Regions from separate parts of the Homo sapiens genome. Here region 2 is linked to region 1. Evidence: fine-mapped expression QTL. A gene starts in region 1. The other region holds a variant in brackets. All regions are shown on one strand. Distances are between the middles of the regions. Region 1 holds the start of NECAB1 (N-terminal EF-hand calcium binding protein 1). Region 2 overlaps LOC105375633 (a long non-coding RNA gene).

Region 1 (8,345 bases):
GTGTGTGTGTGTGTGTGTGTGTGTGTGTGTGAGAGAGATGAGGTGAGATGGGAGGTGTGTGGCTATAACAGAGTTCAGTCACAGAACCATTGCATCTGGAAGACTCATTCGGCTTCGACATTCCTCTGTGCATCTCACACATCATACAAATGAGCATATATGGGGCTTCAGAATTAAGTGTCCTTGTGAAAAGAAACTATTTCTTGTTTTCACCAAGTTCCTGACCATCTATGCTCTGTATCTTGCATTCAGAGTGTACATGAGTGTGCATGCTTAGACGAAGGAAGGAAGGGAAGACAAGCAGTAAAGTCATTCATCCCCCTCACAACTTTCCAGCCTCTTTCCCTCTTTAGCAGTGAAGTGGGGAACAGTCACTTCCCTTCCAGTTAAAAATCAAAGGAAAACTGATGGGAAAGGAAAGTGGCATTGGGTGGATGAAGTTGCTACTAATTTCGTTTGGGAATTTCTCTTGCTTTTGGGGATGAGTTGAAGGTTTGTTTTTCTCCCTTTTCACAGTAGCGGAGTTGATTAATGTAATGACTCAAAAGAGGAGACACATGCTACATAGACTAGTATTCCAAACTAGAGTTCCTCTTCTGTTAACTGGATTGCAGCAACTGGGGAAATGATAGTCCATTGGTGTAAAAGGAAAAGCAATAGTAATCCCTGTGGTCCTATGTGTTGCCAGGACCCAGTTGAGTCCCTCTCCTGTGGCTGGCAGGCATGCCATATGCAAATGCTTGCTCCAGCCTCAATGCACTGGCATACCTTGGCACCAGTGCTAGGTTTTCTAAGCCTCCCATCAGTATTCAAGAGTATTTATGATGAACCGATACTTAATTCTGTCATATTCTAGCAAGACAATTCTATAAATTAGATTCATGAAGAAATAGTCCCTGCATCAGTTTGTGGATTTAGCTACTGTTACTGTTATTTAATACACTCAGTGTGCAGCACTGAAATAACCATAATACTTCAAATTTATGCAATACTTTTTGCTTTGTTTCCATTTTCCCTTATTTCATACTCACAACAGCCTAAGGAAGTATCATAGTGATTACTATTGCTGATTTGGAGAGGATACTGAAGGAAAAGCCAACAGTTGTGGCAAATCTATCTCTGATTTTCTTGTTAAAATCTGTCTCTAGTTTCCAACCAGCTGGTCATGTATCATGTCATTAATAGTGTTCTCAGTAGCAGTTTACATCATTTCTTAAATGATTGATTATTCCAGTGACATTGCAATAAAAAGCACTGCAAATCAAAGTTTTCCTCAAATTTGGAAATTGTCTGTTTGATACAGAAGACACACAGAAAATTACCTGTTCCAGTTTGGAACAGGTAATATCTATCACCTATGTATTATAATATGAAGATAATTTTAAAAGTAATCTTTCTTGCTAGTGCCATAGAATATATTAAATCAAATAAATAAAGTGATGCATGTATATTTTATATTTTATTTTGCTAAAAGTGGTATGATCCAGAAATGAATAATTCACAAATCCCTAAGTAACAAATCATTTTTCATATCACATATTTCACCAGTGTTAGATTTTTCACAAAATAACTCAAAGAAAAGTGTAAACAAAATCTTTTCCATTTGACACAAAATCCAATGGCAGGTTTTTTTTGTAGACTCTAGCATTTTACCGACAAACAAGCATGTCAACACCTCTCATAGGGAATCAGTTTCCTATTTTTATTTTTAAATCTCTGAAATATAAAAGGCAAGACCACCCTATTCACAGACTACAAGTTCCTTTAGTACAGGGACCTGATGCTATTTGTTTACAGACTTGGAAACAATCATGCATACATAATAAAAAATGAAATTTTAATTTTCTCTTCGAAAACATTGCAGTTGAACACTTAAGCAATGGCTGGTGTATGAGTCAGGAGGATGACTTTCCATTTGTGTAGTTTTAATCCATTCATCTCCACACTATCACCGGGGTTTGTTAAGTGCTTTTTAAAAAGCACAGGGAAGCACTTGATCTCAATGGGGGACAGAGTGAAGATCAGGTCAGAATGAATGGAGGCCCCACTTGTCCCCTTTGAATCAACTCCATGGCCCCTTAATTGTCAGCCTCATAACTGACATGATTTCCAGGGGCCCTGACTTTTCAGGCATGTTGTGGTGCCCTTCTCTTTTCTCAGCTTACCTCCTCAAGTGCTTTATGGCCCTGAACAGCAAAACTTGAATAAGATCAGCCCGTTAAGCCATGAGCACCAATAATACCATCTGACTGACCCAAGCCAGGCAGAGATAAATGCTCATGAAGGATAAGGTACTTAACCACCTGATTGGGTGGCTGAATAGGAATGACCACACCTGAGATTTGGTGGGAAGGAGATGACCAGCCCAGAATGCCTGGATCACCAATTGGAGCCACCAGGTGATAAAGGGTGAAGGCTGCCAGTACACACAGTTGAACCTCACTTCTATCATTTGCCTTACAACAGTTTGAATTATTGATAGGAGTTTCTTTCCCTAGAATTAAAAAGAATTCTAGCCAATCCATTCAAAATAAACTTGGGAGAGCGCCTCACATCCTCCTATCCTCTTTATCTCTGCCTCACCATTATGATACTAATTGATTTCCTCATATTTTCATCTCTCCACAAACAAATGTATCTGGCTTCTGGCCCATCTCCCACTCATTTTGACTTTAATAAGAAAAGATAACTCAGAGAAGGGTAAAGGACAGAGCACGTAGCACTCCTCCATGTCCTTTGACATTTTCTATCATGCCTAAACAAGAAGCAGACAGAATTGTCCCCACTGAGATAGACACGACCTCCGGCAACAGCATGAATGTGACAACTGAGGGGCTGGGAGAGCCTGGAGCCCGGCAAGCAGCTGAGAGAAACCCCAAAGCAGAGAGAAGAGATAGGCAACAGACGGAAAAATAGAGAAAACAGAAACAGCAGGCAGGAGAGGAAAACAAAATTGAGAAATAAATAAGAAATAAAAGTGCTGTAAAGATAGAAACCACACCATACGGGAAAAAGAAACAGCACAGAAGGAAAAGAAAGGATGTAATCAGATCAGAGTAATGAAGGCAGGCAGTCGATACCGAAGTGAGAAATTGGACCAAAGGGAAAATAGTCAAAAGCTAGAATTCATGGAGGTGACAGTAGTAATTAGAACTTGGAGAGAAGGAGAATATCAGGGAAGAAAAAGGGAAAATAGAAGAGGTGGCAGTGACAAAAAGAATCATTATGAAAATGATATTTCCCACCGCTGTAAAAAGAAAAACAAATATGCTCAAAGTAATTGTTTTCCGAGGGGGTCTGGGGGAGGATAACGAGGGCATCTCAATCGCTGCTGCTTCCCTGGCTGGGTTGCTTGAGAGCATCCACGAGTGTGAAGGCTGCGAATAGGGCGCGTTAGAGAGATGAGTTGGGACACTGTCCCCACCTCACCCCCCACACCTTGTGCCTCTTTAAAATGTCCTATGCACTCAAATGTTGTCTGTTGTATTTGCAATAGTGTCTCTACGAAACCCAGCCTGTTGGAAAATCTAACTTTTGCAGTTTTCTTAAGGGTGTTAAGCCACAAGCTGCAGGTCTGGGACAGCCCTAGCTGCAAGTTAAGGGACAGTCGTTCCTCCTGCATTTGCATCGGTAGTTCTCGCCTGTGTTCTGGGGACAAAGCATTGGCTGGTCAGCACCTGAGCCGAACCCCTTCCTTTCGGGGAAAAGAAAGGTGCTGGGAAGCAACCGCCCAGCTCCCACCATCTGTACTTACGTCGAGGAAGATCGACATGCCCTTGGACAGGTGCAGAGCAGAGCTGAGCTCCTCCGAGGAGTTGTTGGAGGACGGCGATGTCTCCTGGGAATCTTCCATCCTCGGGAGCCCTGACGGCCTCAGGCGGAGCGGGGCTAGGCGGACGCACCGGCTCTGGCAAGGGCGCGGCCGCAGCTGCTGCTTCGCCGCCGCCGGGCTCTGGATCCGGGAGGGTGTTCGCTCCCGCGCGCGCCTCCCTCCGCGCTCTCCGCGCTCTCCGCGCTCGGTGTCCCCCCCTCCCTCCTCCGGCCTCTGCGCTCCCACGCGCTCCAACTCTCGCCTCCTCCTTCCCGTAGTTGACGGCGTCTGGATCCATGTCATCCCCGCACGTAGCAACGCGCGGAGGGGAGCGGGCTCTGCCCCCGGCACGGCCATCGGCCACGGCTGGAGATAGCCTGGGGACCCCTACCAGCCCCACGACGGCCCCAAGTGCAGGGATGGAGGAGGGCGTCCGGACAGAGAGAAGGGACGAATGGCAGGGCGTTTGTCCTGAGCAGCCAAAGCGCAAGGTAAGGACGCCCCCAGCCTCACCTGAGTGGATGCCATAAATAGGGAGGAACTCAGAGAGGTTCTACCTACTCTGCTTTTGGTCCCAGTGGCCTGTCTGCCCGACCTTCCCCAAAGGCGGGGGCAGGGTTCACGAATACCAGCAATCGAGGAGCAGCTGGTTTGGTGTAGGGATTAAGCCATTCGGTGTTATCTTGCGCTCGAAGGACTTAACCTGTAAGCCTCACTTTTCCTCATCAGTAAAATGGTTACACCGGTCTCACCCCAGAGGGTTCTGAGGCTTACCTATGGCAGTGCTGCTGACAAAGGCGGTGCTATGAACTCTGCCTAGAGTAGGCTTCGAAACGTTTGCTATGGGGCAAGGATTGTTAGGTAATGTTCAAATATGAAGTTTCCCAAAGTCACAAGACGAAGTCCTTATCTGTGTTTAAGCATTTAAACCAGGGTAATTATTCAATATTTGACGGCTTCTGCGAAGGCTGTAAAAATAGGAAACTGACCACACCTTTCATCAGGAGAGAGATCCAGTTTATTGGGCATCTAAAATGTGTATGTGTTGGTTACAAACTTGAGCTATCTGGGAGCGAGATAAGGCAAAAAAGAGGGAACCTTGTCTAAACAAGACTCTGCCTCTACCAGTGAGAACGGGTGAGGAGGATCCAGATCTCCATTTTGTGGCCTTTGGAGAAAAGTAAACATATTCTTCCTATAAGACAGGCCCACACACAACCAAAATGCTGATCAACATGTGAGTGTCTTAAAGGCATGTAAAACATGCTAGGGGTTTCTCAGGAGAGACAGGTTACACTCTGGCTGGGGGGACCAATAAAAGCTTGATGAAAGAAGCGGTATATGAAATGGACCTTAAAAATCAGTGGATACTCCATGCTTGATAGAAATAGAAGGAAAACACTTCCAGGCAGAAGGAACAGCGTAAGCAAAGCATGGCACCAGGAAAGCACGTGGAAGCTGGAAGTAGTCCACTGGGGATTCCTATAAACATACAGAATCCCAGATCCTACCTGGGCTTTCCAAATCCCAATACTAAAGTACTGTCTAGTCCAGAAATCCAAGTCCCCCTCACCCTAATGATTCATACACAGTTGCTATGTAGTAGGCTCAGGACTAGGGTGTGGCAAGTGGGGCCACTTGAGCACAGAATGTAAGGAGGCACTTGCTCTCAATCTCTATCCTGTGCTTGCATGATCCTGAGAATGATTTTCTTAAATTTTGCACCCTAGGTGTCTTGTTCACTTCACCCAAGTCCCACTGCTCCTTTGTAGATGGGTGCTTACAAAAAAAAAAAATGAATCCAGTTGTTCTCAACGCTGCCTGTACATTGGAATCACCTGGGGTGTGTGGTAACTTTAAAATGTGCCCACAAATTCATTGACATTCTTCCTATAGAGAAGTGGGTCCCCTCCCCTTAAATCTGAAAGATTGTGACTGCTACAATGAATGAAATGGAACAGAAGTGTTGCTATGTGCTTTCCGAGGGTAGGGGCATAAAAGCCTTTGCAATTCCACTTTTTACAGTGGATTTGCTCCTGGATTCTTGAACTTCCGTATAGGAAGTTTTTCTACCTTAAGCCACCATGCTTTGAGGAAGCCCAAGGTATATGGAAAGGCAAGTGTAGACACCTGGCTTACAGGTATAGCTAAGCAGAGCCTTTGCATTATCCCAGCCTCAGCAGCAGAAATGTCAATGAGGAAGCCTGCAAATGACTCCAGCTCCCAGCTCTTGCAGACATCCCTAGCCATGTGAGTTGTCCCAGCCAAAACCCCAGGCATCATGGAGTAAAGGCACACTACCAGTGCTGTGCTGTGTCAGAACAGTTGGACCACAGAATTGGGAACATAATAAAATGTATACCGTTTCATACAAATAAGTGTTGAGGTGGTTGGATTTGTAACAATAGATAACCAAAATAAGGAGCTAACCCTCCCTGCACAAACACACACACACACAAACCAAACTGATGCCTGTGCTTCATCCTCAAATTCACTTTCAATTAGTATGCGGTGGGCCCAGTGGATTAATGTTTGTTTGTTTGAAGATTTCCATGTGATTCTGATGTGCAGCAAGGATTAAGAATCACCAAACTTAACTGTGCTGTACATACAGTACAGGAAAAAAGTAGAATAAAATCTCAGAAAATAGGCAGAGGCTATAGGATGAAAATCTGTGAAGCCCGGGGATAGAACTCTGGACTTAATTAGGTAGAGAGTTAGAGACATTAAACTTAATCAGGGGTGAGATATTGATTGGAGCTGTGCTTTAGGAATATTCATCTGACATCTTTATGTGCATTTTCCTAATTAACTGCAAATTTCCTTACCTGAACAGTGAGAATAGACCCTTCTCTTTGACAACTGTTCATCAAAATAGATACAAAATCATTTAAAAAAAAAACATACTGGTCAACCCATCAGATAGACACAGGTCATTCAAATCACTGAAGGAGAAAAACCACGAGAAGGAGGGGGGCTGTCAACCATTAACATCAAGTTACTGAATTTATCAAAATAACATGTTGTTTATTCCTGCCATTGGATGAAGAATGGAATAGATTTTTCTGCAACAAGTGCAGTTTAAGTCTGACCCCTCTAACCCAAGTTGTGCGGGTCCCTCAGCCCTCAAATTCAACCACACAAGTGATAATATTTTTATGCCAATCCCATGGTAACAAGAATAGTTAATAAAGGAGACTTTCTCTGATTATAAATGAAGAACAGGAGAATAATCAGCAGTCATCATTCAAAACCAGGAAGCTGTTTGTAACACTTTAGTTACAAACACTTCAGTTACAGGAAGCTGTTTGTAACACTTTACTGACAATGAATGACATTTTCTGTACCTGTGGATTTGCTTATTTCCTCTAATGGTCTATCAAGGAGAAACATAAATTATTAAGCAATCAACCGATCATTATTTATTTTTATGATTCCTATGTGAACACAGGAATACATTCTGCTGTAACTGACTTCTCTTTTTAATGGAAATGTAATGTTCACAGAGGCTGTAGTAGAAAAAATGGCAATTAGATTCACATTCACAGACAAATTCAATAGGCTCTACGAAGTGGCAACCAAACATATTTTTATAGTTTTCTTTTTATCTAGATGGCATGCATTTTTGAAAGCAGTTTTCACACATTTTCGTGAAACACACATGCCTCACTGCTGTGCATAGTATCAGTCACAAACAGCAGACAACCGACTTGAGGGAGGAAATGCAACTTCTTTGTAGCAAGGGCCTAAAAAAAATAGAAATGTAATTCCAGATTCCAGCTCTCAGGCTTCCTATGATAAGACTTTGACGTGAAGATATTTCTAGCATTTCAGGAGATGATAGCTGTGTGGGAATATATTGTATTTCAATCCATCTCTGCCTTGTAGAAGAACTATTATCTAAACCATTTCAGACAGCTGGGAATCTATCTTATTTATATCTTAAATTCTAGGGAAGGTTATCCTTCCCTTTTGAGTGATGACTCAGAATCCTTTCAGTCAGGTTAGTGGACATTTTTGTTGCCTTGGCAGCTTAGGATCCAAATCCCCTTCCGCTTTAAGTGCCTATCCCCATGGTGTGTTTCCTGACTGGGGGCAGAACTCGCCCCTTCTGAAGGAAAGAAAGGAGATCCTCTCCCTCTTCTCTGGTAGCTGGAGCACAGGCTGAGAGCTAGGCTCAGCTGATAGGACACTTCACTTGTGTGTTTAAACCTGAATCAAGGGATGTGCGGGGAAGTTTATTAATGGCAGTAGACACTCACAGTGTAGTGTTGAGTGTGGCCACAGTGCCAGGGGAGCCCTGAGGATGAATTAATCAAATGGATAATGGCACTCTGTGATTTCAGCAGCCCTGTCCTCCAATCTTGATCTCGAGGCTTTCTGCCGACTTCCTGAGAGACCTAGTATCCTTCCAAAACTTTCTTTTCTGTTTTACCTTAGTCAAAGTTAGTTTTTTATGTTTGGATTCTGACAGATAAATTCAATTTAAATTTCTAGTGTTAAAGAAGGCCATAGTTAAGTCATTGGAAATAGC
Region 2 (8,345 bases), 71 kb after region 1:
ATAAATACATAATAGCTTTTCCCCTTTTGATGGAATGCTTTGATACCACATCTGAGGATGGAATGATACAAAGCTAATTCTGTTTTGCACTTAAAAACACCAAAACTCAAATCCTGAAATCTTTCACTAACATTTCTTCTGTTCTTTTTTGATGTTGATATGTACTACTGAGTTTCCTTCTATGCCTACAAAACTATACCACCCAAAGAAAAAAATGTTAAAGACACCACATTACCATATCTACAGTGTTAATTCCTGAGAGTTAAACATTTCTAATTGCAAAGACAATATGTCTGCTTCATAATTCAATGAATTATTTTTAAATATTTCCTCTACCTGAATAATATTATTATACTAGAATGCCAATTATTTTTTTCCTCTTGTATTTGCTATGATAACAACCAGAAGGACTCTTCCTTTGATTGAGGGGCTCAGAAACATCTTACAGAACAGTGATCCCAGTTTCCTTCTCTGGATTTTAACTCCTTTCTAATCATCATATTCTTTGATTTCAATTCTGATTGAAGGGAGCTCTCATGTATCTCAAAGGTGAGTGAGCAGCTTTAGTGGACCATCTGTAACTACTGACTTAGCCTTATTTTATACAGACAAGCCTAGTAGCTGGGCAGATGTTAATGCCAAATTGGCTGAACAACCCACCAGACTACTCAGTGGACTTGAGTACTTTTGCAGCCCTGTAAGAGAACCCAATGCCAGTATTAAGGATATACAACACATGGGGGCAGAGTCTGTTTAGGCAGAAAATTGGAAGAACTCCATAGAGAAAAAAAGAGAAAGGAGAAATGAGGCCCTAGTTATTTGAGTTTTTGTCCCTTAAAGTAAGGCTGAGGTCTCTATTTTAGTTTTTATTCATGTCATAGTTTATTTTCTATCAAAAGACATCAAAGAATAAAGCAGTATTTATCTGAATAGGGTATGATTTTTTTAAACTACTGAAATGACAATGATGATAGTTATGCCAATTTTCTGAGCCTTTTAGGTTAATAATATATTTTTCTTGATGAAAACTCTTATAATAGAATTTTTAAAATAAAAACTTTTATTTTTATAAACTATCATAAAGAATGACTAATATTTTAACAATTCATGTGATTAGTGGGTAGGAACAGTAAGGTATAACTAAACACAGATGCTCAGTAAAGTTAAATATGTCTATAGTGCTTTTTAAAATCAAAATTGGAAAGGAGATATGTTAGCATATTGAAACCATTAAAGTAGGGTGAGTCACTAAAGATGATTAAGACAAATATCTTTTTCCTACCTCTTACTTACTTTTTGTAGCTTCTAAACTGTGATCTAGTAAGCCATTGCTTTAGACTAATACACCTTCTGTCCCCGATGGAAGGGAGCATAACATAGAGATTAATTAATAATGTCAATTCAGGAGAAAGTGCTCCCAAGTTCTAATACCAGCATCATCATTTACTAACGCTGTGACCTTGGGAAAGATCCTCATCCATCCTCTCAGGGGCTGAGTTTCTTTATATGTGAAGAGGAATGATTAATTGTAACTACCTAATGGATTTGTTAGGAGGATTGAGTATAATAACAACTAAAAGAACTTAAAACAGTGCCTAGTACATTGTAAGCGCTTAATAAATATTGGCTTTAATTGTTATTACAACTGGACCCAAAGAATTATTTAATTTTCTTGATGTACTTAATAACAAAGATATGCCCAATTTCCCAACTCCTGAAGGTCAAAACAGGGGAGACTGAGCTGTAATAAAGTTAATCTGCTATTTCTCAACTACCCTGATAGGACAACAGTTAGCCCTATGGTCAGCTACTGTGCCTGAAGAAATTCTAGTGTCAGAGTTTCTATGGCAAAGATCCCTTCTACAGGAATGGGGATGATTTTACCCCTTTCACAAATGTTGCTTCAATGTACCCCACAAAATTTCGGTTATATTGATTCAGTAATAGTATGAATCATGCTTGGTAGTAAGCAAGAAAAGTTATGATTTTGTAGATTATCCAGTTTTACTTATTGTTACAATGGGGTTCATGTTCTTTTGTGACTTTCTAGATCCTAAAGAGAAGCAGAACTAACTTGGGCATTATTTTGTCAAATAACCTTTATGCTCTAGCATTTCCCTCTTTTAATTCTAGAACTATTTTACGTATAATAGAACTTTAGATATTTTCCCACATGTCTCTGAGGCAATGCTGATATTTTCTCAATCTTTCTCTCTTTATTCTTCTGATTGGATAATTTCTAGTAGTTGATGGACTCTTTCTCCTGTACCCTGCTGTTAAGCCCAGCCAGTAATTTTTAATGTAATAGAATGCATTTTTAGTCCTAGAATTTCCTCATTGAGCACTTACTGGGTCCCAGAGGTGACTTTATGTTTTGTTTACACCTTAATTTGAGACGAATTTTGGAAAGTCATAACTCTTCAGAACCATAGTACACCCTTTTCACATTGATTCTCCTTGTTTCTACTTTAAAATAGTCCACTGAAATCAAACACCCTTTAGTAGAGCAGCTGTTTGTAGGGAAGTGGCAGAGGAAAACATTTATCTCAGACCTCTAGATAAGGTATAAATTCTCCTCTGATTTAACTCTCTATTGGTTGGACATGTCTTTAGTATCTTTCTTGTTCATATTCACAACTAGTTTACTCATATTCATGTGATTGTCCAGTCCATTTTAGCAACTTATTTTCTATACCACATCTAATGTGTCTTGTCGTTTGGTTAAAAATAAATCAGTCCATTCTAGTTTGTATATTCATCTAAGTAGCTTCAGGATAAGGGCTCCTAGCAGAAATTTTTATCAGATACCAGTACCAGGAACAGCTGTGCATCTCCTGAACAATTGGTTTGTTTGTGAATCTTCAAACAATCTTTTGTAGTACTGTGAATCTTGAAACTGATTGTTTTTCCCTCTTTGCTTTGTCACTAAAAGAAATTCAGAGTCCAATGTGTAGCTCACCTCTAAAAATACTACATAAACTTATGATAAAGATTTTGGTATACTAACCTTAGCTTGTTTTATTTTCTACCACTATTTTCTTTTGTACCAGATAGTCTCATCAATTTATCCTTTCTATACTTATGTGATTTGTAAGAAACATTAACTTTCAAAGTGTATGTAATTAATAAATAAATTTAATTACTATTCACAAATTGAAATGCTCCAAATTGTGATATTCAATCCTTTATATCCTAATCCTGGTGAGAAAAGTGTTGTGAACAACATAATCAATTTCCCACATCTTTGAATTATACACAATGTGCGTTTATTTTAAGCCTTGGTCAGTGAACTGGTTTCTGAATATTCTTATTTTGCTCCCACTCTAAGAAATATACCTTCTACTTGGAATTAATAAAATTTATTGAGATAAAGTTATCATTTCTTTGTAAGTAGCCTTGGAATCTTTAGTTTCTATGTGCCTATCATTGTAATTAAGGTTGCTATATTCCACTGTGTTACGACCATCATTGTTGGAGAGTATCTATAAACTTCCTAAAGTCAGATAATTTTTGCTTGAAATTAAAAGTCTTGACCTTTGTGGTAGTTACATTGAATATTCACTTTACAAAAATTAGTTGTGTCTAGATTTTGTATGAGTTTTTCTAAATGTAACACAATTCACAATAAAAAAAGTTTTTCATAACTAATATTACTAAAAGCCCAGCCAGATATAAAATTAATTATAAATATAATCCTGGGGAGATACATAAACAAATTTAGGAATTATGAAAAAATGTATTCAGCTTGGTCAACTGGTTGATCTGAACCAATTCTACTGCCAAGAACAACTAGAAAAGTTTGATAAACAATGTTTTTAAAAATATGAGAATATTGGTGAGCTACAAAGGAAGAAATGAATACCAAACAAAAGCACAGAGAAGAAAACCCAGA[G/A]AGGCAAGCCTGATATTTGGACTACTTTTCTGCAGAGACAGTAGCTAATTCTACAAGAGAAGTTTCAGAGGCTGGGAAGCTAAACTGAGCTTTCAACAGCACTGTGAGCTTAGGAGGGTGCAAACTAGAATGTAGAGGCTTCCAAGGAGAGGGAGGGCCCTACAAATCTCCAAATTTTAGGACGAGACCTCCACCTAAGGACTGAGGGTAAACTGATGTAGTCCAGCCCTCACAAGGACTGACATTCAGTTTTGAATCACCTCTGTTCCTGAGTGGATTAAGGTAAGCTGGTATTGCTTTTGTTCCAACAATCTGCCAGAAACAAATGCAAATATTATTTGAGATGAAGTTTACTTTAGACTTCAAATTACCTCTATAATTTTTCAAATACCAACAACTGGCATGAAATTTAAAAGATCAGGCACACAGGGAGACAAAACTACGGGATGGAAACCAAGAAAAACAACAGACAATATAACAGATGCTCAGATCATCCAGATAGTGACATTTCAGACACAAACACAGATTGTTTAAATCACAAGTAATAACAATATATCGTGTGGTTTAAATTATCTGTAAAAGTCAAATGGATGACAATAATAGCACAAAGTACAAGTGTATAAATCATAGTATAGTTTGGAAGATTCTTACCTTATAAGGAAGTGCTGTAATATTAATTTAAAATAGACTGTGATAAGTTAAGGATACATATTAAAATAACTAAAGAAATCACTAAAAATAAAAGAGTTACAGATAAAAATTTAAAAGAGGAGGTAAAATGAAATATAAAAAAATTGACTAGTCAAAAAGAAGGTAGAAGGAAATAGTGGAGTCTCAAGAAAAGATAGAACAAATAGGAAACAAGAAGCAAAATGATTGTTTTAAACCCAACCATACTGATAATCACATAAAAGGCAATGAACTAGATACTCCAATTAAAAAACAGAGAGTATTAGAGTGGAAAAAAAGCAATGCCCAACTGTATGCTATTTAGAAAGAAATGCATTAAATGTAAATACATAAATATATTAAAAGAAAAAATATGAAAATAGTAAGAATGAGAAAGAAGTATTTATATTAATAAGGCAATGTAGATGTCAAGAAAAGAGTACCACCAGAGACATCACCATTACATAATGACAAAAAGTTTATTCATTAAAAGACATATCAATTCTGTTTCACGAATGAGCAAATAACAGTCTGTGAACCAAATCTGGCCTGCTACCTGTTTCTTTCATTTTTTATATTTTACTTTAAGTTCTGGGATACATGTGCAGAACGTGCAGGTTTCTTACATAGGTATACATGTGCCATGGTGGTTTGCTGCACTCATCAACCTGTCATCTAGGTTTTAAGTCCCACATGCATTAGGTGTTTGTCTTAATGCTCTCCCTCCCCTTTCCCCCCACACCCTGACAGGCCCTGGTGTGTGATGTTCCCCTTCCTGTGTCCATGTGTTCTCATTGTTCAACTCTCACTTATGAGGAGAACATGCGGTGTTTGGTTTTGTGTTCCTGTGTTAGTTTGCTGAGAATGATGGTTTCTAGTTTCATCCATGTCCCTGCAAAGGATATGAACGCATTCTTTTTTATGGCTGTATAGTATTCCATGGTGTATACGTGCCACATTTTCTTTATCCAGTCTATCATTGATGGGCATTTGGGTGGGTTCCAAGTCTTTGCTATTGTAAATAGTGCTGCAATAAACATATGTATGCATGTGTCTTTATAGTAGAATGATTTATAATCCCTGGGTATATACCCAGTAATGGGACTCCTGGATCGAATGGTATTTCTAGTTCTGGATCCTTGAGGAATCACCACACTGTCTTCCACAATGGCTGAAGTAATTTACACTCCCACCAACAGTGTAAAAGTGTTCCTAGTTCTCCACATCCTCTCCAGCATCTGTTGTTTCCAGACTTTTCAATTGATTGCCATTCTAACTGGCATGAGATGGTATCTCACTGTGGTTTAATTTGCATTTTTCTAATGACCAGTTATGATGAGCTTTTTTTCATATGTTTGTTGGCCACATAAATGTCTTCTTTTGAGAAGTGTCTGTTCATATCCTTTGCCCACTTTTTTGATGGGGTTGTGTATTTTTTTCTTGTAAATTTGTTTAAGTTCCTTGTAGATTCTGGATATTAGGCCTTTGTCAGAAGGGTAGATTGCAAAAATTTTCTCCCATTCTGTAGTTTGCCTGTTCACTCTGATGCTAGTGTCTTTTGCCGTGCAGAAGCGCTTTAGTTTAATTAGATCCCATTTGTCAATTTTGGCTTTTGTTGCCATTGCTTTTGGTGAATTAGTCATGAAGTCTTTGCCCATGCCTATGTCCTAAACGGTATTGCCTAAGTTTTCTTCTAGGGTTTTTATGGTTCTAGGTTTTACATTTCTGTCTTTAATCCATCTTGAGTTAATTGTTGTACCTGTTTCTGTTTTAAATGAAGTTTTATGAATGCAGCCATCCTTATTTGATTACATATTGTTTTTGTCTACTTTAGAGCTACAAAGACAGATGTGGGTTGTGACAGAGACAGTATGACACCCAAAACCTAAATTGTTTACTATTTGGCCACTTATTTTTTTAAATGCAAAATTTATTATGTGCATACAGATTAATAATAGAGCTTCTAAATACAGAATAAAAAACTGAAAAAACTAAAGAAAAAAACAAGAAGTTCCAAATGTTTAGCAATCAAGTGGCACATTTATAAATAATCCCTGAATCATAAAATATTAGCAAATCAAATCAAGAAATATGTAAAAAGTTTAACACATCAAGACTAAGGATTTTTTATCCCAGGATTGGTCTCATGTTGTAAAGTTAAACAATGTAATTCACCACATTAACAGAACAAAACAAAAATTATATGGTCATTTTACTAGATCCAAAAAAATCGCTGGACATAATTCAATACCTATTTATGATTGTTTAAAATCTCAGAAAACTAAAATGAAAAGAAAGCTTATCAATCTGACCAAGGGCATCTACAAAAATTTGCAGCTAACAGTATATTTAATGGTAAAAGACTGAACATTTTACCCCGAATTCTTACCACTTATATTCAACATTGTACTAACCTGTACAACAAGAACTGCCAAGACCAGCTCAGTCAGGGAGACCCTAACCCAGTGGCGCTAGAGGAATTAAAGACACACACACAGAAATATAGAGGTGTGAAAGGGGAAATCTGGGGTCTCACAGCCTTCAGAGCTGGGAACCTTGAACAGAGATTTACCCACATATTTATTAACAGCAAGCCAGTCATTAGCCATGTTTCTATAGATATTGAATTAACTAAAAGTATCCCTTATGGGAAACAAAGGGATGGGCTGAATTAAAGGAATAGATTGGGCTAGTTAACTGCAGCAGGAGCACGTCCTTAAGGCACAGATCGCTTATGCTATTGTTTGTGGTTTAAGAATGCCTTCAAGTGGTTTTCCACCTTGAGTGGGCCAGCTGTTCCTTGCCCTCATTCTGGTAAACCCACAACCTTCCAGTGTGGGCATTATGGCCATCATGAACATGTCACAGTGCTGCAGAGATTTTTTTTATGGCTAGTTTTGGGGCCAGTTTATGGCCAGATTTTGGGGGGCCTGTTCCCAACAAAGAACTAACCATGAAATAAGGCAAGAAAAAATATATATATATAAATTGAAAAGAAAGAAATAAAACTCTCTTTATTTTAAGATAAAATGATACTCAATTTAGAAGGTCCAAAGGCATCTACAAAACAACAATGGGAGTTAATAAATGAATTTAGTAAATCCACAGGATACAGAATCAATGCTATCCCTATCAAATTACCAATGTCATTTTTCACAGAATTAGAAAAAATATTCTAAAATTCATATGGAATCAAAAAAGAGCACAAATAGCCAAAGCAATCCTAATCAAAATGAACAAAACCACAGGCATCACATTATCTGACTTCAAGTATATTTCAAGGCTACAGTAACCAAAACAGCATGGTACTGGGACAAAAATAGACACATGGACTAATGGAAAAGATTAGAGAATCTAGAAATAAAGCTGCACACCTACACCTAACTGATCTTTGACAAAATCAACAAAAATAAGCAATGGGGAAAAAACTCCCTATTCAATAAATGATGCTGGGGGAATTGGCTAATCATATGCAAAAGAATGAAACTGTACACTTATCCCTCACTATATATCAAAATTAACTCAAGAAAGATTAAAGACTAAAATATAAAACCTCACACTATAAAAATCCTAGAAGAAAACCTAGGAAACACTATTCTGGACATCGGCCTGGCAAAGAATTTATGACTAAGTCTTTAAAAGCAATTGCAACAAAAACAAAACTTGACATGTGGAACCTAATTAAACTAAAGAGCTTCTGCACAGCAAAAGAATAAACAGATAACATACAGAATGAGAGGAAATATTTGCGAACTATGCGTCTAACAAAGGGCTCATATCCAGA

What was found.
Region 2: its variant is fine-mapped to the expression of NECAB1 in iPS cells (PhLiPS, PIP 0.95).

Annotation. Positions count from the first base shown.
Region 1 is chr8:90,787,395-90,795,739 of GRCh38, reverse strand. It overlaps NECAB1 (N-terminal EF-hand calcium binding protein 1), which reads right to left and starts at 3,965. Exons shown (of 13, transcript NM_022351.5): 1 at 3,755-3,965. The coding sequence starts at 3,853. It overlaps LOC105375633 (a long non-coding RNA gene), which reads left to right and starts at 3,572. Exons shown (of 4, transcript XR_928389.4): 1 at 3,572-4,302.
Region 2 is chr8:90,716,306-90,724,650 of GRCh38, reverse strand. All of the region lies in intron 1 of LOC105375633 (a long non-coding RNA gene), which reads left to right. Among named protein-coding and RNA genes, the nearest start is that of NECAB1, 71 kb to the left of the region's middle. The variant G/A (reference allele first, on the strand shown) is at 3,893.